Linked DNA regions of Homo sapiens. The main gene of each other region encodes a partner of the protein of the gene in region 2 in a complex. Each region holds a gene or a part of one and is shown on either strand. Other genes may lie near its edges. The genes, in order: SHC1 and GRB2. A codon is read from its position in the direction of its gene.

What was found.
Region 1: the proteins of GRB2 (region 2) and SHC1 are in contact, whole or in part, in an NMR structure (PDB 1QG1), measured with the Homo sapiens proteins. Residues at the interface, in NP_002077.1 of Homo sapiens: Arg67, Glu71, Arg86, Ser88, Ser90, Asp94, Ser96, Gln106 (codon at 7,056), His107 (codon at 7,053), Phe108 (codon at 7,050), Lys109 (codon at 7,047), Leu120 (codon at 7,014), Trp121 (codon at 7,011); in NP_892113.4 of Homo sapiens: Asp423, Asp424, Pro425, Ser426, Tyr427, Val428, Asn429, Val430.

The regions. Positions count from the first base shown.
Region 1 is NC_000001.11:154,961,662-154,967,747, forward strand, and holds the end of SHC1 (SHC-transforming protein 1), read right to left. Parts: coding exon 6,010-6,086; intron 4,884-6,009; coding exon of another isoform or gene 4,857-4,883; coding exon 4,658-4,856; intron 4,571-4,657; coding exon 4,501-4,570; intron 4,420-4,500; coding exon 4,285-4,419; intron 4,121-4,284; coding exon 3,882-4,120; coding exon of another isoform or gene 3,708-3,881; exon of another isoform or gene 3,625-3,707; intron 2,271-3,624; coding exon 2,142-2,270; 3' UTR 637-2,141; downstream 1-636. UniProt on the Homo sapiens protein: Signaling adapter that couples activated growth factor receptors to signaling pathways. Participates in a signaling cascade initiated by activated KIT and KITLG/SCF.
Region 2 is NC_000017.11:75,314,756-75,331,186, forward strand, and holds the end of GRB2 (growth factor receptor-bound protein 2), read right to left. Parts: intron 11,266-16,431; coding exon 11,143-11,265; intron 7,073-11,142; coding exon 6,904-7,072; intron 5,799-6,903; coding exon 5,613-5,798; 3' UTR 3,321-5,612; downstream 1-3,320. UniProt on the Homo sapiens protein: Non-enzymatic adapter protein that plays a pivotal role in precisely regulated signaling cascades from cell surface receptors to cellular responses, including signaling transduction and gene expression.

The DNA.
Region 1 (6,086 bases), on a different chromosome or scaffold from region 2:
AGCCCAGGCCCCCGAGCTGCAGCAACCACAAAGTGCGACGACAGGGAAGCGCCGAGCCGCCGCGCAAACTGCGCGCTCTCTCCAGACTCGCCGCCCGCCAGCGGCGGCAGCAACCGGAACCGGAACTCGTCGCGGCCACCACCACTGAGCGCTGCGGGGAGGGGGAGCAAGGACCGGACGAGACGCTACGCCTGAAAACAGGCGGCGGGCGAGGGACGAGGCTTACCACGGCACCACGCGAGTGGAAAGGGTCGTCTCCGCTAGCGGCGGCCCACACCAGCTCACCGAGGGGCGGCAGCGCGCGGCCCGGCTGCCGGACCGTACCATCCCGGGCGGTGGAGCCGCCGCGGAGGGGCGCGCGCGAGCCGAAGGCGCACCCGGGAGGCCCAGGTAGCCCGGGGGCCGGTGCTGGGGCGCCGGGCAGGCCCGGCTCCCGCCTCGACCCACCCGGAGCCAGCCCCCTCTGCGGACACGACATCCCCATGGGGACGGTGGCGCGAAACGCCCCACTCTGCCGCACCCAAACTCTGCAGACCCCCAGCTTCCCTGGGCGGCCGCGACCTCCCGCCTCCCCGTCTGCCGCTGAGGGCCCGCGGCGTACACAATAGGCTTCCCAGAAGGGTTAAGAGGCAGAGGTAGAAGAAATACGGACTTTAATGAAGAGTTTTCCCTTTGGTATAAGTGAGACCCGTGGAAACATCCAAACAGCAAAAGGAGGCCAGGATGAAAACGGTCAACTCTCCCTTATCCACAAGGCCAAAAGAGGGGGGGCCGGCTTGCTGTGGTGTGGCCACCCCGGGCCTAGGCTGGGCCGGGCCTGTAGAAGGTACTCAGGAACTGCAGGTTTTGCGTTTCCCCTCCATGAAACTGACAGGCATTCGGGCTGACTTCTGCCTCTCAGTCTCGCGGTAAGAGACCCAAGTTTTTCTAGTCCTAGATGGAAATAAATTTCATCTGCCTCAGGTCTCTGGTATAAAAGGTGCGATCCCAGTTACCTCACAGGCCTAGGCGAGGAAAATGCCAAGAGCTGTAAAAGGGCTTGGAAAAGTCAAAAAGGTGATGTATAAATGTAATAATTGATTATCATTTTGTGCTCAAGAATAAGCAATGGAAAAGAAAATAGGAAAGTAAGTCTACAGCCCTAAAATATATGCATATAAAACTTTAAAAGAATGCAGTTCCAACTCTACAGATGGTATGTGGGGATTGTCTACTGCTTTATAGTCTCAATGCCCCTTTTCTCACCTCCACAAAATCCACCTGGGAGAGTTAACTGTACAAGAGGCCCAAATTCAGTCACCCCCACCCCGCCCTCCCAGAAAGGGAGGCAGGGCAGAGGCTTCAGGAGGAAGGGCTGCACTTTGGCGTAGAGTACATAGGCATGCAACATGGGAGGGCAGGCCTTATGAAATGTATATACAGACCCCTTGGGGTGAGGGGCCCCGGCCAGGAGGCACTGAGCAAGGGAGGGGTCCATCTCCCGCCTGGCCGGGAGTGGGGCTCTGGGGCAATCTCTAAGGGTTGCATATCCCCAGGGAGAGGGGACAGCTGCCACTCCTGCCTCTGTTATCCCAACCCAAACCGGAGAGGGTGCTCAGCAAGAACACAGGTCCCAGAAGCCAAGAAGGTGTTGGCATCCCTGTCATTGAATTCAGGGGTCCAAGAACTGTTTGCATAAAATATCATTAGACCTAAGAGATGGTCAAAGGCACAAAGTTTAAACATGGGGGGGGCGGGTGTTGAGAGGGGTCTGGGATACCCTGAAGCCCAGAGGTGTGATTTGTTCCCCCTTGCCCAGAAGGGTGACTGTTCCACTGGGCCTGTCACCACAGGACATTTTCCATGACAAGCACTCACCTTCTTGGGGAAGGGGCATCAGGTTGGCACAGGAAAGGCCCAGGTGAGGGGCCACTCTGTACATTAATACTTTGGTGATTAATGTTTGGGGAGAGGCAGGATTCTCACCCAGGCTTTTGACTCAAACCCTCTCACTCAGCTGGATATGAAACCCAGAGTCCATGCTACTCCCAGCTCTGACACAAGGCCAAGCCCACAGAACACTCCCAAACGAGGTCCCGAGAGTTAGGGAATAGGGTGGAAAGGATTGGAGGGCATCTTCTGGAAGAGAGCGCTAGGGCAGATCACAGTTTCCGCTCCACAGGTTGCTGTAGACACAGTTCGCTGCCCGCAGAGATGATGGGCAAGTGATTGTCCATGTGGTAGCTGATAAGGTGACTGACACTTTCAAAGCGGTGATCCTTAGTCCGAACCTGGGAGGGTGGGAAGGAAGAAGGTCAATTCAGGTGAAGAGTCAAATAAGACCTCAGCCTCCAAGGTGGAAGAGGGTGAAACAGACAAGAGGCTTGAAGGAGGAGAAAAAAATGGTGGGGGAGAGTGTGGCCTGTCAATCCTGATCATTGAGGCTTCTCTAGAAAGAGACAGTTGTAGGAATAGACAGGTCAGTGAAGTGAGAAAAGGCAAAGGCGACATCAGCCCTGAAAGAGTGAAGCTGAGAGCTATATACCCCTTTCTTGACCTGGAGGAAGTTGGCATGTCTCAGAAGAGTATACACAGTGCAAAAAAAGATGTGGAGGCTGGGCATGGTGGTCCGTGCCTGTAATCCCAGCACTCTGGGAGGCCGAGGGAGGCGGATCACTTGAGCCCGGGAGTTCAAGAACAGCTTGGGCAACATGGCGAAACCCCATCTCTACCAAAAAAAAAATACAAAAATTAGCCAGGTGTGCCACCACACCGCAGCCTGAGTGACAAAGCAAAACCCTATCTCAAAAAAAAAGAAAGGAAGCTGAGATTACTGTAGAAAACAAACAAAAGTTTTTTTGTTTCCAGACAGGGTCTCTGTCACCCAGGCTAGAGTACAGTGGCGCAATCATGGCTCACTGTAACCTCGAACTCCTGGGCTCAAGCGATCCTCAGGCCTCAGCCTCCTGGGTAGGTAGGACTACAGGCATGTGTCACCATTCCTGACTAGAGACAAGGTCTCGCTATGTTGCCCAGGCTGGTCTTGAACTCCTGGCCTCAAGCAATCCTCCCACCTCAGCTTCGCAAAATGTTGGGATTACAGGCATGAACCACCACACCTGGCTAAACAAGGAAAGTTTTGAAGAACAGTGAGGCAGTGCAGATAAGAGAAAGCACAGTGGTCTGAGTCCTGAGTCTGGGGAGCTGGAGAAGCCCTTGGATCTTCTTACAAAAGGAAACTTGCAGTGTCTAGCCTCTAACCATCTGACATTGGGCATCACAACCTCTTCAGGGTGGTTTCCTTATTTGTCAAAAGAGGGGCACAGATGAGATGACTGCCTTCTAGCTCTGATAAGCTTAAGGCTTGGGGATTTGAGGACGGGCCAGGACTGTATTTGTTTTGTTTTGTTTTTTCAGACAGAGTCTCACTCTGTCACCCAGGCTGGAGTGCAGTGGTGTGATCTCAGCTCATTGCAACCTCTGCATCCCAGATTCAAGCAATTCTCCTGCCTCAGCCTCCTGAGTAGCTGGGACTACAGGTGCCTGCCACCACACCCGGCTAATTTTTGTATTTTTAGTAGAGACAGGGTTTCACCATATTGGTCAGGCTGGTCTCGAACTCCTGACCTCAGGTGATTCACCTGCCTCAGCCTCCCAAAGCGCTGGGATTACAGGTGTGAGCCACCACGCCTGGCCCTGTGCCAGGACTATAAAGAACATAGTTCAGGCTAAGGGATGAGCCTCTGGAGGAAGATGCCAGACACTTTAAAGAGCAAGAGAGGCCCATAGACAGCTGCCCAGCGGGAATGTCTACAAAGCAATGAGGGAAGGAAGAGGGATACACTGTAGGGTACTGTACCTTCCTTTTTGCCACCCCTCACCCACACCTCTGCCACACTCACCACACCCTCAGGGTCCACCAGTAGCAAATGCTTAGGCTGCCCACTCTGCAAGCCAGTGAGCACATACTGGCCAGGTGTGGTCGTGCTCTCCCGTACCAGGAAGTCCCCATTGAGCTGCAGCAGTGCCTCAGCCTCCCGCCGGCTCAGCTTCCCATGGAACCAGGGCTCCCCTCGGAGCTGCTCAGCCATGGACACCGACTGGGGAGGTGGAGGCACGCGAAGAGCATCTTCGAAGGGCTCTGGAAGTATAGAGGGAGGGTGAGGGGAAGTAGCAGGCACAACACACACCCAAGACCCAGACTTCAGGGAAGGGAAGTCAGGAAGGAAAGAGCAGATAGGCAGGAGAAGGGCCAGAACCAAGTAGAAAGGTGGGGATGCAGAGAGGAGAGAGACGAGCACTCACTCATGTCAAACAGGTCCCGGGGTGCACTGCCATTGATAGCAGGATTGGGGGGCCCAGCACCACCCACTGCTTGCCGGGCCTTGTCTAGGTTCTGGACGTTGACATAGGAGGGATCATCAAAAAGCTCTCTGCCTGCTGAGGAAAGGGAGGCTCTACAGTGATCCCAGCCCTGCCTCCAACACTCCCCAGCTCTGCCTATCTCGGCTCCCTTCATACCTGGACAGGGTGGTGGAGGTGGCATCTGTTTGCGGACTTCTGGATCTCCCCCAACAGGCTGTCCTACAGGCTGCAGGGATAAAAATAAGGTGAGACCAGAAGCCCTAACCAACCACTCCCACCCTAGCCCCAGCCCGCCTCCATCCAAGCAACTTACCAATGTAGCTCCCAAGTGGCTGGGGGTCTGGGCATTGGGTGCAGTGGGTCGAGCAGCCCCTGGAGCGGCTCCTTCCCGAAGCCTCATGTCTACCACCCCCCCCAAGGGGGGTTCCTTCCCCGGGAAGTCATTATAGTACTGATGGTCAGGTGGCTCTTCCTCCTCCTCATCCCATGCTGAGCCATCAAAGCCAGCCATCCTGAGGGACAGGACAGTGAAGCTGTGGCTGTAAATGTGTGGTGGGCAGGAGGAGGGAAGGACAGAATAGAACAGCAGCCATCTATTGGGTATTTACTATGGATTAAGCCTGAGGCTGAGTGTTTTATATACATAATCATTTCATTCTCCTGGCAACCCCGTAAGGTAGGTATTGTTTCCTTCCCCACTTTTACAGATGAGGAAAATGAGGGTCAGAGGTGAAAAGATCTGCCCAAGGTCTCACAACTAAAAGGCGGCCGAGCTCAGATTTAAATTCAGGTTTGACTTTAAAGCTCATCCCCTTGGCCAGGTGCAATGGCTCACGCCTATAATCCCAACACTTTCAGAGGCCAAGGAGGGAGGGTTGTTTGAGCCTAGGAGTTCAAGACCAGCCAGGACAACATAGCGAGACCTTATCTCTACCAGAATAAAAATACTACTACTCAGCCAGGTGTGGTGGCATGCACCTGTAGCCCCAGCTACTCAGGAGGCTAAGGTGGGAGGATCACTCAAGCCCAGGATATGGAGGCTACAGTGAGCTGTGATTGTACCACTGAACTCCAGCCTGGGCTACAGAGCAAGACTGTCTCAAATAAGTAATGCTCTTGCTCTTGATCTCTGTGCTATCTCCCAACAAGGAAGGGAAGCACCATGTAGGGGGGTGGGGGGCCGGGGGAGGCACTCCAGCTCCAGAATATTTTAACCTCTCCTAAATATTCAATCCCTACTGGCTCCACTGCTTATCCCTCAAGGCCTGAGGTGGGAAAGGTTGTAATCTCAGGGAAAAGAGATATCCTCCCAAACCCAAATTCTTGATGGCTTCTAGAGGCAGGAAAACACATAATGCCAAGCAGAGAAATGAGCAAGAAAGAGGGATGGGAGTAGAAAATCCCACCTAGCCAGAGAGAGATGTAACTTGGAGGCCCCGGACTACAACTCCACCATGAGCAAACAAGAAAAGCTGGTCCTGCGGCAAGCAGGGCCTCAAAAGTCTTTCCTCCTGGGCCACAGGAAACAGAAGAATAGCAGGAAGTGGGAAGCAGAGGCACACAGGTTATTCCCTCCCTGAACCTCTCAACTCAAGTGTAGGAAGAGCAGCCCTCCTTTCCTAATCCTAATCCAAGAGCTGCTCCACACTCTCCCCACCTGCTCACCTGTCATGAGGGGTGACCAGTTTGGGTGGGTTCCTGAGGTATTGTTTGAAGCGCAACTCGAAGGCCTGGCCAATGGT
Region 2 (16,431 bases):
GAATCGCTTGCACCCAGGAAGCGGAGGTTGCAATGAGCTGAGATGGCGCCACTGTACTCCAGCAACAGAGCCAGACTCCAACTGAAAAAAAAAAAAGAAAAAAGAAAAAAAGAAGGCTGTCCTTGGAGACCTAAGACCAGTGTTGCTCTTGGGTGGGCCAGAGTTGAGACTTAAAATACGTCTTAGTGATTTCTTTTTTGGACGGGGTATAGTATGGCTTTTAGTGTTAGTTTTAAAAGTAGTGTTTGGAATGCACTAAGCAGTAAGTGGCTTAATCAATATCACTAACATGTAATATTGATCTATCAGTGCTGTTGGCACACAGAATTGTACTCTTTTTTTTTTGAGACGGAGTCTCACTCTGTCGCCCAGGCTGGAGTGTGATGGCGCGATCTCGGCTCACTGCAACCTCTGCCTCCCGGGTTCAAGCGATTCTCCTGACTCAGCCTGCCGAGTAGCTGTGATTACAGGTGCCCGCCACCACGCCCACCTAATTTTTGTATTTTTAGTAGAGACAGGGTTTCACCACGTTGGCCAGGCTGGTCTTGAACTCCTGACCCCAGGTACAAAAATTAGCTGGGCGTGGTGGCAGGAGCTGGTTATCCCAGCTACTTAGGAGGGTGAGGCAGGAGAATCACTTGAACCCGGGAGGTGGAGGTTGCAGTGAGCCAAGATCGTGCCACTGCATTCCAGCCTAGGGGACAGACGGAGACTCTGTCTCAAAAAAAAAAAAAAGAAAAAAAAAGTATTTCCAAGACGCATAAAACAGGTCCACTGTCATTTTTTCCAGTTATCCAGGAACTTCCATAAAGCGAACGTTTTGGGCTGAAGGTCACCCACCCCATGAACAGTCAGGTGGAACTAGTGCCCAGGGAAGGCAGGCAGCCTGCGCCATCATGGCCTTTGGCTCAGAGGCCACCTAAGCAGCCCCGCGCTGTGGGTCACCATCTCCTCCACACTCAAGTCTGAAGGTGAGCCTGTCAGGGGCTCCCAGCTCACTGGGTGGAGGGAAGCGTGTCAGGGAGGGGTGGGGGGGGCGTGCCCTGAAGAGCGAGGCCATGCGCCTACCTCCAGCTTTTCCCCTGACACACTGAGCGACTCCCGGCTGCACGCCGGCCACAGGGCTCCTGTAAGATGCTGGGAGGCTTCCCAAGGCACCCCGCCCAGATGTCTTCCCAGGAATCCCGGATCCCTGAGGAGGGAGATACCATCACTAAGAAATCTGTGACCAAACTGCTGATCACAGAAAAGGAGTGATTTTCCCATTAATTCTGAAACAGTCAGTCAAACGCGAGGGAGGGGACAAATTGAGCAAAAAGCCTCAAATGAGGCTAAATGAGTCACCACGCCCGGCCTTTTCAATTACATAGCTCCATTTTGTAAACTTCTGCTCAGCTTCAAGGAGGCCAGCCCAAGTGGACCACAGGACTAGCAGTCTTGACTCTTGCTGGGTCAAGATCCTTCCCACACATGACTGCTGCAGGGGAAGGTCAAAAACGTCCCAGGCCAGGCACAGCTCACGCCTGGATTTCCAGCACTTTGAAAGGCCAAGGGTGGGGGGATCTCTTGAGCCCAGGAGTCTGAGACCAGCCTGGGAAACACAGACCCCACTGTACAAAAAAAAATGAAATTAGCCAGGTGCAGTAGCGTATGCCTGTAGTCCCAGCTACTTGGGTGCAGTAGCGTATGCCTGTAGTCCCAGCTACTTGGGTGCAGTAGTGTATGCCTACAGTCCCAGCTACTTGGGAGGCTGAGGTGATCACTTGAGCCCAGGGGATTGAGTCTGCAGTGAGCTATGATTGCACCGTAGCACTCCAGCCTGGGTGGCAGATAAAGACCCTGTCACAAAACAAAACAACCCACAAGCCTCCCCTGCTCAGTGTGGCTACACCAAGAAGAATTCAAGTCGAGATTTCTTGGGTATTTTTTTTTTTTTTTTGAGAGAGGTCTGTCTCTCAGGCTGGAGTATAGTGGCATGACAGCTCACTGCAACCTCCACTTCAGCCTCCTGAGTAGCTGGGACCACAGGTGTGCATCACCACACTCAGCTAATTTTTGGTAGAGATGGGTTTCACTATGTTGCCCAGGCTGGTGTGGCATTCTTGAGCTCAAGCAATCCACCCGCCTCAGCCTCTCAAAGTGTTAGGATTACAGGCGTAAGCCACTGAGCCTGGCCCTTATTACCTTTATTTTTTATTTTATTTTATTTTTTTGAGAGGGAACCTAGCTCTGTCACCCAGGCTGGAGTGCAGTGGTGCAATCTCGGCTCACTGTAACCTCCACCTCCCGGGTTCAAGCGATTCTCCTGCCTCAGCCTCCCGAGTAGCTGGGACTACAGACACCTGCCACCACAGCTGGCTAATTTTTGTATTTTTAGTAGAGATGGGGTTTCACCATGTTGGCCAGGCTGGTCTTGAACTCCTGACCTTGTGATTCACCCGCTTCAGTCTCCCAAAGTGCTGGGATTACAGGTGTGAGCCACCCTGCCTGTCCCCTTTTTATTACTTTTTCGAGACAAGGTCTCACCCTGTTGCCCAGGCTGGAGTGCAGTGGTGCAACCACAGCTCACTGTAGTCTTGACCTCCTGGGCTCAAGTGATCCACCTCAGCCTCCCAAGTAATCCTCACTACAGGCGTGCGCCACTGCATCTGGCTAATTTGCTTTTTGTAGAGAGGCAGGGAGTCTCCCTATGCTGCCCAGACTGGCCTCAAAACTCCTGGGCTCAAGTGATCCCCCACCTTGGCCTCTCAAAGTGCTGGGATTACAGGCATGAGCTACCATGGCCAGACCTCATTTCTTTTTTGTTCAGTCTTCTTTGCCTCTGTAGCCAACGTGTGTGTAAATATGCCTAGTCTCACCCTAAAAGCAGCCTATTGAGCAAACAAGTATATTTCAGTTACTCAGCATATTAAAACCGTTTCTTCACAGGTGTTTCTGTCCTTCTTCTTGTTTAACACAGAAAACAGGAGAACCAAATAAGCCAAGCTCTTTATCTTCCCAAAGCCCTTGGTCTAGACCAGAGTTCCCAAAGCGTGGTCAGTGGTTTCTCTACATCAGAAACAGCGGGCGTGTCTGTGTCCTCAAAGGCAATGTCCGAGGATGTGGGGCGGGGTTTGCGATTCTGTATTGTTAACAGGCTCCCCAGGAGTTCCTGACAGCCAACTGCAGGCATCGCTCCCAGGAAGGCCTGTGAGCCCCACATGCTCCCCTAGGGGGATGTAAGCTGGGTGATCACGTCTGAAATAAGGACCCAAGATTCCTGACTCCCCGATGCGGTTTTTAAATTTTTAAGGCAGGCAAGGGGAAAAAAAGATACCAAGTGAAGAATTCATTGTGTATTTATTATTCACAGTTAATCACTACCTACCAAATGCTATCCGCAGAGTTAAAGGATTAAGTACATAGGTCTTTATTTAAACACTGATTTTTTTTTTAAATATATACACACAAAACTTAGTTCAGCAAGGCTTCATGATATACACCAATTCCAAAATAAAACAATCAAATGGTCCAGGTGTAGAATGCCAGATTCCTTTTATCATCTGCGAGGAAAAGAGAAGCAGGATGAGGAAGAGTGAGGGAAGGCGGGGACAGGCTCTGCCCAGAAGAGCTGCCGCCTCCTGGCACAGCAAACGCTCCAGGCCTGGGCCCTGTTCATATCTGGAGTCGGAGGGAGACTCCCATCGGCCGCTTTGGGACTGAAAGGCCCAAGGCTGTCACCAGCTCCCGGAAGAGAGGGAGGCAGTCTTGTTTTTGTCGTGGGAAGGGGTTTGGGTGGAGAAAAAGATTACAGGCACATCACCACAGGGGACCAGAAGTGGAGAGAAGACAGAGAGTTCTGCCGAGGCCTTGGTCTTCCTGTCTTTCCAATCTTGCCTTCCCCAACTCTCCCTGCTTCCTGGGACCATCGGTAGGGGTGGGGAGCAGCAGTCAACACAGCCCACTGGGAAGGGAGGCACAAGCAGCACTCCAGCTTCCCAGTGCTGCCCTCACACTCACCTGGACAGGTCAGGGGACACAGGATGAAAGCCATGGCCCAATCTAAGAGCAAGACAAGTGAAAAGTGAGTACTCTCACTGTGTACCCCAGCATAGGAATAGTGAAACCTGCTACAACTGGAGGCTGCGTTCCCATGACTTCCTCCTCCGCTCTCCTTGTCTGGGACTTGCTGGTTCCAGGGGTGCATATAGGGAGGGGGCGGGGGCCACAACCCCCGAGACGGTGAGGACAGGCTTCCGACCCCCCTGTAAGCCAGATCCAGTGGGATGTGGGAGAGCTGGGCGGTCACCTTCCCTCTTGCCCCGGTGGCCCATCACACTCACACTGCACCCTGGGCAAGCAGTTCCCTGAACCCCCAAGGGGCTCACAACCCTTAAAGCTGGAGCTTAAAGCCTCCTGGCTTAGTACAAGCAGGAGAACGCCTCACCTTCCACTCCTGCTTTGTCTCCTTTGCTCTACCCTGGCTCCCCTGCCCGGAGGGAAAAATATTTACACAGAGTAGGAGACAAATTGGCTGAAAAGCTCTGGACTGCCTTTAACTTATTTTAAAACAAAACAAATTAAAAAAAAAAAAAAAACACCACTCAGAAGCAACCCTTGAAATAAGGAAAAAGGCACTATGAAAAAACAACATGCTCGATAATCCCACTGGAAGGGCCAACAAAGTGGAAAGAGACAGGCTTTCAGGTGGGCTTTTTTTTTTTTTTTTTGAGACGGAATCTCGCTCTGTCACCCAGGCTGGAGTACAATGGCACGGTCCCGGCTCACTCAACCTCCACTTCCCAGGTTCAAGCGATTCTCCTGCCTCAGGCTCCCAAGTAGCTGGGACTACAGGTGCGTGCCACACCCGGCTAATTTCTTATTTTTAGTAGAGACGGGGTTTCACCATGTTGGCTAGGTTGGTCTCGAACTCCTGACCTTGTGATCCGCCCACCTTGGCCTCCCAAAGTGCTGGGATTACAGGCGTGAGCCACCGCGCCCAGCCCAGGTGGGCTTTCTCAGGAAGCCATGGAAGCAGAGACATGCTTTCCTTCTACCCTACTCTACTGTGAACTTGGACAAAATACACTGGGGGTCTGGGCTGGAAGGCAGATTCCTACAAGTCCCCTCCTCTGGAGGAAGCTAAACAGCAAAGGCATCGAGCGGCCCTGCCCGCTCCTTTTTGTGTGTATATACGAAGAACACAGGAACAGCTGTTCTTCTTTCAGTCATTCCAACTAAAACAGACATTTTGCATAGAGAGAATACCAGCCCACTTGGTTTCTTGTTTTTTATTATTGGCGTCAGCTAGGACTATACGTGGCCTTAAACGTCATGCACTGATGGACAGAAGAGAAAAAAGGATGAAAAAAAAGACAAAGGAGGGGAAAGAGGAGCAGCAGTGAAAATTTGTAATAAAAACTCTTCTTAATTTATAGGTAAGTTTTGGCATTTTTAAATCCAACGCCCCCTCCCACCCCCTAAAGTTCCAACCAAAGTGAGAGGGTCACAGGGTGACCCGGCCAGGTGTTCTGCACTCCCTCACAGGCTGCTGTCAGAGGCAGCTTGTGGGTTTAATTCTTTTGTATGTGTTTTACATTTTTCACTTTCTTTAAATAATTGCTTCTTGACTCTTAGACGTTCCGGTTCACGGGGGTGACATAATTGCGGGGAAACATGCCGGTCTGCCCGTGGCAAGCTCCTTTCCACCAGTTGGGGTCTGAGTTATCCATGACATGGATAAAATCTCCCCGGCGGAAGCCCAGCTCTCCATCCTCCTGGGGATCAAAGTCAAAGAGGGCCTGGACGTATGTCGGCTGCTGCAAAACAGGAGCAGGAAAAACCCACATTGCATTCCTGGTCTGTGACTGGCCACCTCCGAGGCCAGATGGGTTCCAGGGGGAAACGAATGCGTGCCAAATTCTCCATGTTTCTTAAACTCACCTCCCATCTCCCAACCCCCCGTTTATTCTTACCTATTCTAAGTTTACAGGCCAAGCGGGTTTAGTGTGATATTTCCCAGTGCTCAGAAAATATTAGAGTATGTCTCCCAGAGGAGGGTGGCCAACTGTGCCGTATTATCAAGTAGAGGGCAGGCAGTGCTTGGAGGAGAAAGTTCTTCAGAAACAGCCATCTGTGTTTAGGCCGTGGGCCCAGAATCGCAAATCCCTTCTACGACACCCTTAAGGTATTAAAGCCTAAAGTTCTGGAGCTCGAATAACATAAGGGGCTCTAACCGTAACTTACGACCAGGGCTCGAGGGACAGGAACGGGTGCCGACCCCATTCCCTCACAAGCATAGTTTTCCTCATAATTTGCTTCCAGGGACAGGATCTTTGGGTGGGTGTGTTAAAGACCATCTCCCTAGAGAGGCTGGCAAGCTGGCTACACACTGCCTCTGGAAAAGCAAAAACCTTGTATTTGAAACAACAAATCTTTTTTTTTTTTTTTTTTTTTTTTTGAAATGAAGTCTCCCTCTGTCGCCCAGGTTGGAGTGCAGTGGTGCAATCTCAGCTCACTACAATCTCCACCTCCTGGGTTCAAGCAATTTTTCCATCTCAGCTTCCCGAGTAGCTGGGACTGCAGGTGTGCGCCACCACATCCAGCTAATTTTTGTATTTTTAGTAGCGACAGGGTTTCACCATGTTGGCCAGGCTAGTCTCAAACACCTGACCTCAAGAGATCTGCCTGCCTCGGCCTCCCAAAGTGCTGGGATTATAGGTGTGAGCTACTATGCTGGGCCAGAAAAAAGAACTCTTTAGTGTGAATGGAGGGTAACATTTTCAGTAAGGAGCACAGAAGCCCCAGCGGCAATCCCTGAAGGGCGCCCGCATGTTGAGGGGCGCCTCCCCTTTCCTACAGGAATGCACACTGAGGAGCTATTCTTAACTAAAAATGATCCCATCTCACCCTGATGAGGCTTACCTGTGGCACCTGTTCTATGTCCCGCAGGAATATCTGCTGGTTTCTGGAGACAGATGTAGATCTGTGATAATCCACCAGCTCATTCAAAGAATTGAACTTCACCACCCAGAGGAAGTACTTCCCGGCTCCATCTCGGAGCACCTTGAAGTGCTGCACATCGTTTCCAAACCTGGGAGGGACAGAAAGCACATGTGACCGGCTAAAGGCTCTAACTTGGCAAATCGAGGGTATTTCCATATAGGAGCTATCTCGAGAGAACCACTGTCCCAGCAGCACTCCTCAGGGACTGCAGAGCAACAAGTTTCCTCACTGGGTGTCCCTGGGACGGACCTCTCCCTATGAATGATGGGCACCAGGACAACATCCAGAAACCAGAGAGGGACAGGCCATCAGTCATTCTCATTCTGAAGATGTTTGTAAGATAAAGAGTCCAGGCCGGGTGCGGTGGCTCACACCTGTAATCCCAACACTTTGGAGGCCGTGGTGGGCAGATCACCTGAGGTCGGGAGTTCGAGACCAGCCTGGCCAACATGGAGAAATCCCATCTCTACTAAAAATACAAAAGTAGCTGGGCATGATGGTGCATGCCTGTAATCCCAGCTACTCGGGAGGCTGAGGCAGGAGAATCACTTGAACCTGGGAGGCCGAGGTTGTGGTGAGCTGAGATCGCGCCATTGCACTCCAACCTGGGTAACAAGAGTGAAACTCTGTCTCAAAAAAAAAAAAAAAAAGAGTCCATGTGCCCTGAACCCTACCAAATAAAAACAGCCGTACTTAAGACAAAGGAGTGTGACTTAACATCCTTTGAATAAAAAAATAATTAAAATCTTATATGCAGGAAGAAGGTGAGGAGGGCTGGAAATACTTTCAACAATTCTCTCGTAACTGGGAATAGTTCAAAGTAATGTTTTCCATTCAGGAATTTTAGCTCCACTCATGGGGAAAAGGTCTCTGAACAAAAGGACGTACTGGGACAATAAAAGAGGCCCAGACTTCAAAACCCAAAAGCTTCTCCATCACTAGATCACACCCTTTTATACTGGCAAGCAAAACCGGCAACAGCGTGGCTGGCTGGTACTAGCTCACAGGGTCTGTCACAGGATATTTGGCTAAAACACCAGCCTAGCGAGGGCGCTTCTGCCTGTCCTGTTCACCTGGCCGGGCACTCTCGGCATTCTCGGCCGGATGCGGTGGCTCATGCCTGTAATCCCAGCACTTTGGGAGGCCGAGGTGGGCGGATCATAAGGTCAGGATATCGAGACCACCATGGCTAACACAGTGAAACCCCGTCTCTACTAAAAATACAAAAAATTAGCCAGGTGTGGTGGCAGATGCCTGTAGTCACAGCTACTCGGGAGGCTGAGGCAGGAGAATGGTGTGAACCCGGGAGGAGGAGCTTGCAGTGAGCCGAGATTGGGCCACTGTACTCCAGCCTGTGCGACAGAGTGACACTCCATCTCATTAAAAAAAAAAAAAAAAAAAAAGGCATTCTCTGAGAGTGCTTGTTCAATGAATGAATGAGTCCCTCCTCTCCTTCAGTCTTTCAGCTGATGGAAACCAAAGGCTTCAGAAAATCAATCCGGCAGGTGGCAGCACTGAGCCTCAAGGAAGCCACTCAGCACAAGATGCCTCGCATTTGGAAAAAATACTGCTTTACATGTTAAGACAAAATGTGGAAGGTGAGAAAGCTTCATTAGCAAGGGTATATTCCACGGCACTTCTGGCCCCACAGAGGCCCACTTCCACCCATGCAATGCAGGTGGTTTCTAAGAGCCCAGGGCCCCAATAATGAGCAGTGTTTCAAATCACAGGCTCAAAACATCCTAAAACTAAGAAACATCTGACAACTGTTGATTCTTGAACCTTTTTTGCAGAGGTGTGTGTGTTGTTAAAGAGAGTCATGACACCTGCTTTGCTTCTAAAACAATAAATGCATTAAATCCTTAAAAGATTCTACTTGAGAAAATGGAAGTTTGAGAGTTTCTGCTGAGCAAACAGGCAGCGTCCAGCCGAGCACGTGGCTGCCCCCGTGGTTTTGGCCACCACCCAGTGATTTACTGCTTGTTCCCCTCATCTTATAAGGTTTCAGTTACACTTGGGTCAGTATAAAACTAAAGAAAGACAGGTGTCACACATGTTTTTCTTTTCTTTTTTTTTTTTTTTTAAAGATGGATGGAGTCTTGCTCTTTCACCCAGGCTGGAATGCAATGGCTCAGTCTCGGCTCACTGCAACCTCTGCCTCCTAGGTTCAAGTGATTCTCCTGCTTCAGCCTCCGGAGTAGCTGGGAATACAGGCATGTGCCACCACGCCTGGCTAATTTTTGTATTTTTTTAGTAGGGACAGTGTTTCACCATATTGGTCAGGCTGGTCTCAAACTCCTGACCTCATGATCGGCCCGCCTCAGCCTCCTAAAGGGCTGGGATTACAGGCATGAGCCACCATGCCGGGCCACAACTATAAATTTAAAATCTACGTTTCAAAAAAAAAATCTACATTTTAATCACACATTAAGTGGTTCTAAAACCAAATAAGATATTCAGTTTGTTTGTTTGTTTTGGGAGACACAGTCTTACTCTGTCACTCAGGCTGGAGTGTAGTGGCACGATCTTGGCTCATCTGCCTCTCGGGTTCAAGTGATTCTTCTCTCTCAGCCTCCTGAGTAGCTGGGATTACAGGCACACGCCACCACGCCGAGGCCATTTTTGTATTTTTTTTTTTTTTTTTTTTTTTAGTAGAGACAGGGTTTTACCATGTTCGCCAGGCTGGTCTCGAACTTCTGACCTCAGGTGATCTGCCTGCCTCGGCCTCCCAAAGTGCTGGGATTACAGGTGTGAGCCACCGCACCCAGTTTTTTTTTTTTTTTTTTTTTTTTTTTTGGAGACAGAGTTTTGCTCTTCGCCCAGGCTAAAGTGCAATGGCGCCATCTCGCCTCACTACAACCTCCGCCTCCTGGATTCAAATGATTCTCTGGCCTCAGCCTCCCAAGTAGCTGGGACTACAGGTGTGTGCCACTATGCCTGGGTTATTTTCTATTTTTAGCAGAAACAGGGTTTCACCATGTTGGCCAGGCTGGTCAGTTCATTTTTGAAATGGAAAAGTCTCACGCTTTACATCAGTTATAAATGGGAAATGGTGGCTGGAAGCAGTGGCTCCAGCCTGTAATCCCAGCACTTTGGGAGGTCGAGGTGGGTGGATCACCTGAGGTCAGGAGTTCAAGACCAGCCTGGCCAATATGGCAAAACCCCATCTCTACTAAAAATACAAAAATAAGCCGGGCGTGGTGTCAGGCACCTGTAATCCCAGGTACTCGGAGGGTGGGGCAGGGAGAACTGCTTGAACCTGGGAGGTGGAGGTTGCAGTGAGCTGAGGCATGCCATTGGACTCCAGCCTGGGGGACAGAGCGAGACTCTGTCTCAAAAATAAGTAAATAAAATAAAAGGAAAATGGTTTTCTATCCCCCATTCAAAAACAAAACAATCTTAATGTAATCTAAACTAAGTAGTGATCTGAGTGTTGAATCTAATTACTTCTTTATATATAACTGATGAAGTGATCTGCCGGACTCCTGGGGAGGGTCCTATGATAATACATTAACTAGAAAATAACTGAAAGTAAAAAACATGGAAATAACAATTTAATTCAAAATCCCGACTTCACAGCTGAGGTGTGAATTGTTTAGAATCTTCAAGTGCTGGTTTCTATTCTCCACACTCTCCATGGCGGCAGAACTTCCTGTCTTCTCCATTCCCTGCTTACCCGCTCCCTTTCACACCTGAACTTTCCACCGGGGAAATGCAAGCCCCACATCCCCTGCAGCAGCCTTCTTAAGTGACTGTGAGGGCCTAGGATGGGGCTGGTTGATTTAAGTCAGTGGACCTGAGCAAGGCAAGCCAAGGCAGCCGACAGGCGCTCCACTATCCCATTAGAGAGAGCTGCGGGAATCCCTTGGAGGGCAGAAGCTCAGGAGTGCTGGGCACTAGGGAAAACTGGCAGGCTCCAGCTGGCTGCAGGGAGCTGCTGCTCACCTCCTGAAGGCTGTGTCCACATGGGAATCTACATCCAGTGCTTCTAGAACTCATTTTGAGAGGAGCCAGAAATTAGGATTTTAATGTGAAATGAAGAAACTGTTTAGGCTAAGCCTCCACCATTTTGTGTGTAGCCAGGCACCTGACCAACGGCTTCACAATTTGGATCAGTCAGAGACAGGATTCCAGGCAACTGCAGCAGGAAATACTTACTTGACAGAGAGGGAGAAGTCCCCAGGAGCGCTCTCACTCTCTCGGATAAGAAAGGCCCCATCGTGCCGCTGTTTGCTAAGCATTTCTTCTGCCTTGGCTCTGGGGATTTTGCCAAAAAACCACCTAAGGAAGGAAGGCAAGCTGGTCAACATCTGCTTCCCCACAAAGAAACGGGATATCCAGCCTTCAAAATGTGAGTAACACAACACTCCTTGCCAGAGGAAGGGGCCTCCCTCCTCATCCTCCAGCCTCACAGTGCCCAAGATCGACACTGGGTTGGGTCCCCAGAGATGGACCTTCAAAGGTCTTTAGCCTACTCCATTTCCCAGAAAGCGACTCACCAAGGCACTAACCGTGGGTCACTCTTTCTATAGAGGGAGACATTTGAAAATGGGCCCCCCAGGCCAAAGCCCACTGGACTCCCTACTGACTCATGACAAAGGCGCCTGGGGAAAAGCTCAGGCCTTTGGGCTTGGTGTACGGGATGAACTGCCAAGGAGAGACTGGCCCCTTCCTGCAGCCATGTGATAAGATCACAGCTTCACCACAGTGGGACTAAGGGAAAGTGGGGAGGAAACCTGGACGGCCAGGAGCTGGAGGCAGGGTTACTTTTGCTAACAGCCCAAAGGCAAAAGGTTCAGATAGTATGAGGGTGCCTCTACCAGTAACTAAGGTCAGCATTCCTCTCAAGGCCTGCCTCTGGGGCCACTGCTCAGAGTTCAGCTTTCAGAAGCCACCAGGAATATTGTAATTTACCATATGCTCAGCAGCTAGCTGCAAAATTCAGATTTTTGAGGCAAGTTGCAGACTCTTCTGCTCCCAATTGCTGATTCACCTTGGCCAGAAGAAAAAGTGGCTAAATTCATGAAAAACTGTGAAGCAACTGGCTGTGGCTTATCAAGAGGAAGAGGAGAGGAACACTTCTACAAGAGCTTCAAGTCAAGCTGCCTCACTATTTCAAATGAAAACTATAATTAGGAAGAAGAAACTGTGAAAACCATGTTCTCTTCTCAAAATTGTCTTTAGTTATCATTTTTAAAAGCAAAAGTTATAGCAAATAAAGACCTATAAACATGGAAACTGGCATTCATTTAATATGCTAATTATAATATCAAAAGTCCTTTTAATGGACCAAATAGTCCATTAAAGTTGTAAATCTAACTTACATATCTTTTCTTTTTTTTTTTTTTTGAGGAGTCTAGCTCTGTCACCCAGGCTGGAGTGCAGTGGCACGATCTCGCTCACTGCAAGCTCTGCCTCCCGGGTTCACGCCATTCTCCTGCCTCAGCCTCCCAAGTAGCTGAGCAGCTGGGACTATACATAGGCGCCCGCCACCATGCCCGGCTAATATTTTGTATTTTTAGTAAAGATGGGGTTTCACCGTGTTAGCCAGGATGGTCTCGATCTCCTGACCTTGTTGATCCGCCTGCCTTGGCCTCCCAAAGTGCTGGGATTACAGGCATGAGCCACTACGCCCGGCCCTTTTTTTTTTAGATAGAGTCTCACTCTGTCATCAAGGCTGGAGTGCAGTGGCACGATCTCGGCTCACTGCAACCTTCGCCTCCTGGGTTCAAGCAATTCTCCTGCCTCAGCTTCCCTAGTAGCTGGGATTACAGGCGGCCACCACCACGCCCAGCTAATTTTTGTATTTTTAATAGAGACGGGGTTTCACCATATTGGCCAGGCTGGTCTTGAACTCCCGACCTCGAGATCTGCCCGCCTCAGCCTCCCAAAGTGCTGGGATTAAAGTCGCGAGCCACCACGCCCGGCTAATTTACATATCTTACTTATAAGCAACCATATTGGAAGATGTACCTAAAATAATATACTATACTCAAATTCAAACAGAAAGATGTGATCTGCTAGGAAGGATACACTTAGAAGCTGCCCTTAGTAACTTTGTCCTTGTGTGTGTGTGTCAGCCTCTAGGGACTCTTAGTAACTCTGAATAGTCTGACATCTACCTGCTTGGAGTCTTTCTCATTTTGCATACTCTACTGCCAGGATGCTGAGGAGCTGGGACAATAGATCCTCCTGCTTCTACAAATAACTCAAGGCTAGGGCCTGCAGTGCCTGGAAATCAGGCCACACAAGAGAAATCACATATCACTAGAATAGAATGCTCTCTAAATATAAAAGGACAGGCTGGGCCCGGTACCTCATGCCTGTAATTGCAGCACTTTGGGAGGCTGAGGTGGGGTGAATCACTTGAGGTCAGGAGTTTGAGACCAGCCTGGCCAACGTGGTGAAACCCACTCTCTACCAAAAATACAAAAATTAGATGGGCACAGTGGTGGGCACCTGTAATCCCAGCTACTCGGGAGGCTGAGGCAGGAGAATCACTTGAACCTGGGAGGCAGAGGTTGTAGTGAGCCGAGACTGTGCCACCGCACTCCAGCCTGGGCGAAAGAGTGAGACTCTGTCTCAAAAAAATATATAAATAAATAAAATAAAAAAGGAGGCTGGGTGCGGTGGCTCAATGCCTGTAATCGCAGCACTTTGGGAGGCCGAGGTGGGCGGATCATCTGAGGTCAGGAGTTCGAGACCAGCCTGGCCAACATGGAGAAACTCCATCTCTACTAAAAATACAAAATTAGCAAGGCGCGGTGGCGCATGCCTGTAATCCCAGCTACTCGGGAGGCTGAGGCAGGAGAATCGCTTGAATCTCCGGGAGGCAGAGGTTGCGGTGAGCCGAGATCGTGCCATTGCACTCCAGCCTGGGCAACAAGAGTGAAACTCCATCTCAAAAAAATTAAATAGGCCGGGTGTGGTGGCTCACGCCTGTAATCCCAGCACTTTGGGAGGCCGAGGCGGGCGGGTCACAAAGTCAGGAGATCGAGACCAACCTGGCTAACACGGTGAAACCCTGTCTTTACTAAAAATACAAAAAATTAGCCAGGCGTGGTGGCAGGTGCCTGTAGTCCCAGTTACTCAGGAGGCTGAGGCAGGAGAATGGAGTGAACCTGGGAGGCGGAGCTTGCAGTGAGCCGAGATCGCGCCACTGCACTCTAGCCTGGGCGACAAAGCGAGACTCGCTTTCAAAAAATAAATAAATAAATAAATAAATAAATAAATAAGGACACTTAACGGTATTGAGACCTTCTCAATCGGGGGGCCCCAATCAACGGTATTTAAACCTTCTCATATCGGGGGGCCCTGGGTTTCTAATATAAGTGTATGCAGCATGCATCTGACTGGGTACAGCAGTGAAAATCCACACATGGCCTCGGCTGGCTCTCCCCACACTGCCCCACACTCCCCACCACTGCCACTTCCAATAGCAATGGTGAGGGTGAAGATTCTCAATCAGCAAGGCTCTCTTTCCTCCTAGGCCCCCAAGATCTCTCCACTAGGGAGGTTTTTTCCCATTTGTAGGTATAAAATAATGAATATAAACTGAAATAGCCTAGATGTACATGAAGCAAACATAAAAAGTAAGATGCTTCCCTCAAACTCCCCAGAGGCAGCACGTGTTGGCGGTTCTAACACTTAGGTTTCCAGACCTTTCTGTCTGGTGTCACATAGACATGGCTGCTGTGTTTTCTTGCCCCCAGCTTAAAATTAACGCAATTTTATTTTCAATTAAAAAAAATAAATTGTAGTGAAGTACAAATTATAATGTTTAAAAAGTACTCTAACTGGAATTAAAACCAAAAACCAAAAAAACCACAACTCTGTTATAAGCACCCAGATCAAGAAATAAAAAATCTGGCACCAGGTGCAGTTGCTCACGCCTGTTAATTCCAGCACTTTGGGAGGCTAAGGTGGGAGGATTGCTTAAGCCCAGTAGATCAAGACCAGCCCGGGCAACACAGTGAGACCCTGTCTCTACGAAAAATAAAAAATTAGCCAGGCATAGTGGTGCACAGCTGTAGACGCAGCAACTTAGGAGACTAAGGTGGGAGGATAACTTGAGCCCAACCTGGATGACAGAGCAAGACCCTGTGAATAGCTGTCACTACTAAAACACTGAAATACCACCATTCTACATTTCTATAGCATTTTATATCATTTATAAATTTGACTTTTTAAAATGATGATATGTACATGTGACTACATGCTTACGGGTGAATTTTTTTTATTTTTTATTTTTTGAGACAGAGTCTTGCTTTGTTGAATAGGCTGGAGTGCAGTGGCGTGATCTTGGCTTGCTGCAAGCTCTAACAGGCAAATGTTTTGAAAGTCTTTAAAAAGATGGGCTTTGGGCCGGGTGTGGTGGCTCACACCTGTAATCCCAGCACTTTGGGAGGCCGAGGCGGGCGGATCAGGAGGTCAGGAGATTGAGACCATCCTGACCAACACAGTGAAACCCCATCTCTACTAAAAATACAAAAATTAGCCAGGCATGGTGGCACATGCCTGTAATCCCAGCTACTCAGGAGGTGGAGGCAGGAGAATCCCTTGAACCAGGGAGTTGGGGGTTGCAGTGAGCCGAGATCGCGCCACAGCACTCTAGCCTGGCGACAGAGCGAGACTCCATCTCAAACAAACAAACAAACAAACAAACAAAAGATGGGCTTTGGCAGGGTGCGGTGGCTTACACCTGTAATCCCAGCACTTTAGGCCAAGAGCTCGAGATCAGCTTGGCCAACACAGTGAAACCCCATCTCTACTAAAAATACAACAATTCGACGGGAGTGGAGGCACGCGCCTGTAGTCCCAGCTACTCGGCAGGCTGAGGCACAAGAATCGCTTGAACCCAGCAGGCGGAGGTTGCAGTGAGCTGAGATAGCACCACTGCACTCCAGCCTGGGCAACAGAGCAGGATTCCGTCTCATAAAAACAACAAGAACAACAACAAACAAAAAACAAAAAAAAAAAAGGTGGGCTTATACAACAGAAATAGCAAGGGCGAGAGCTAAGGGGGTGAGGGGAGAAGGCTAATTTTCCAATATAATTCTTTACTACATCCCGTAGGCTCCCATCCATATGCATTTAGTGTGAAAAGCACATATTTGGATCCACCCCTCAAGCATATACAACTCATGCTGCAGCACTAATGCCAACAATCATTTTGTAGTCTAATTTGTTAACTTGAATGCTGCATTAGCTGACATGGTGCTACATTTTATGCTTCCCTCTTCCTCCATAACCCCTGCTCCCCACCCCCACAAACAAACAAACAAACAAACAAAAAAACAGGAGGTGGTAGGATGTGGAGGAGAAGGCCTGGTACTGACCCTGACCCTATACTCATGAACATCCAGCCACAGAGCAGCCCTATACAACAGCAACTACGTCTGCAAGGCCAAACACCTACATAGGCACAAGCATGGTCTTTGTTAGCAA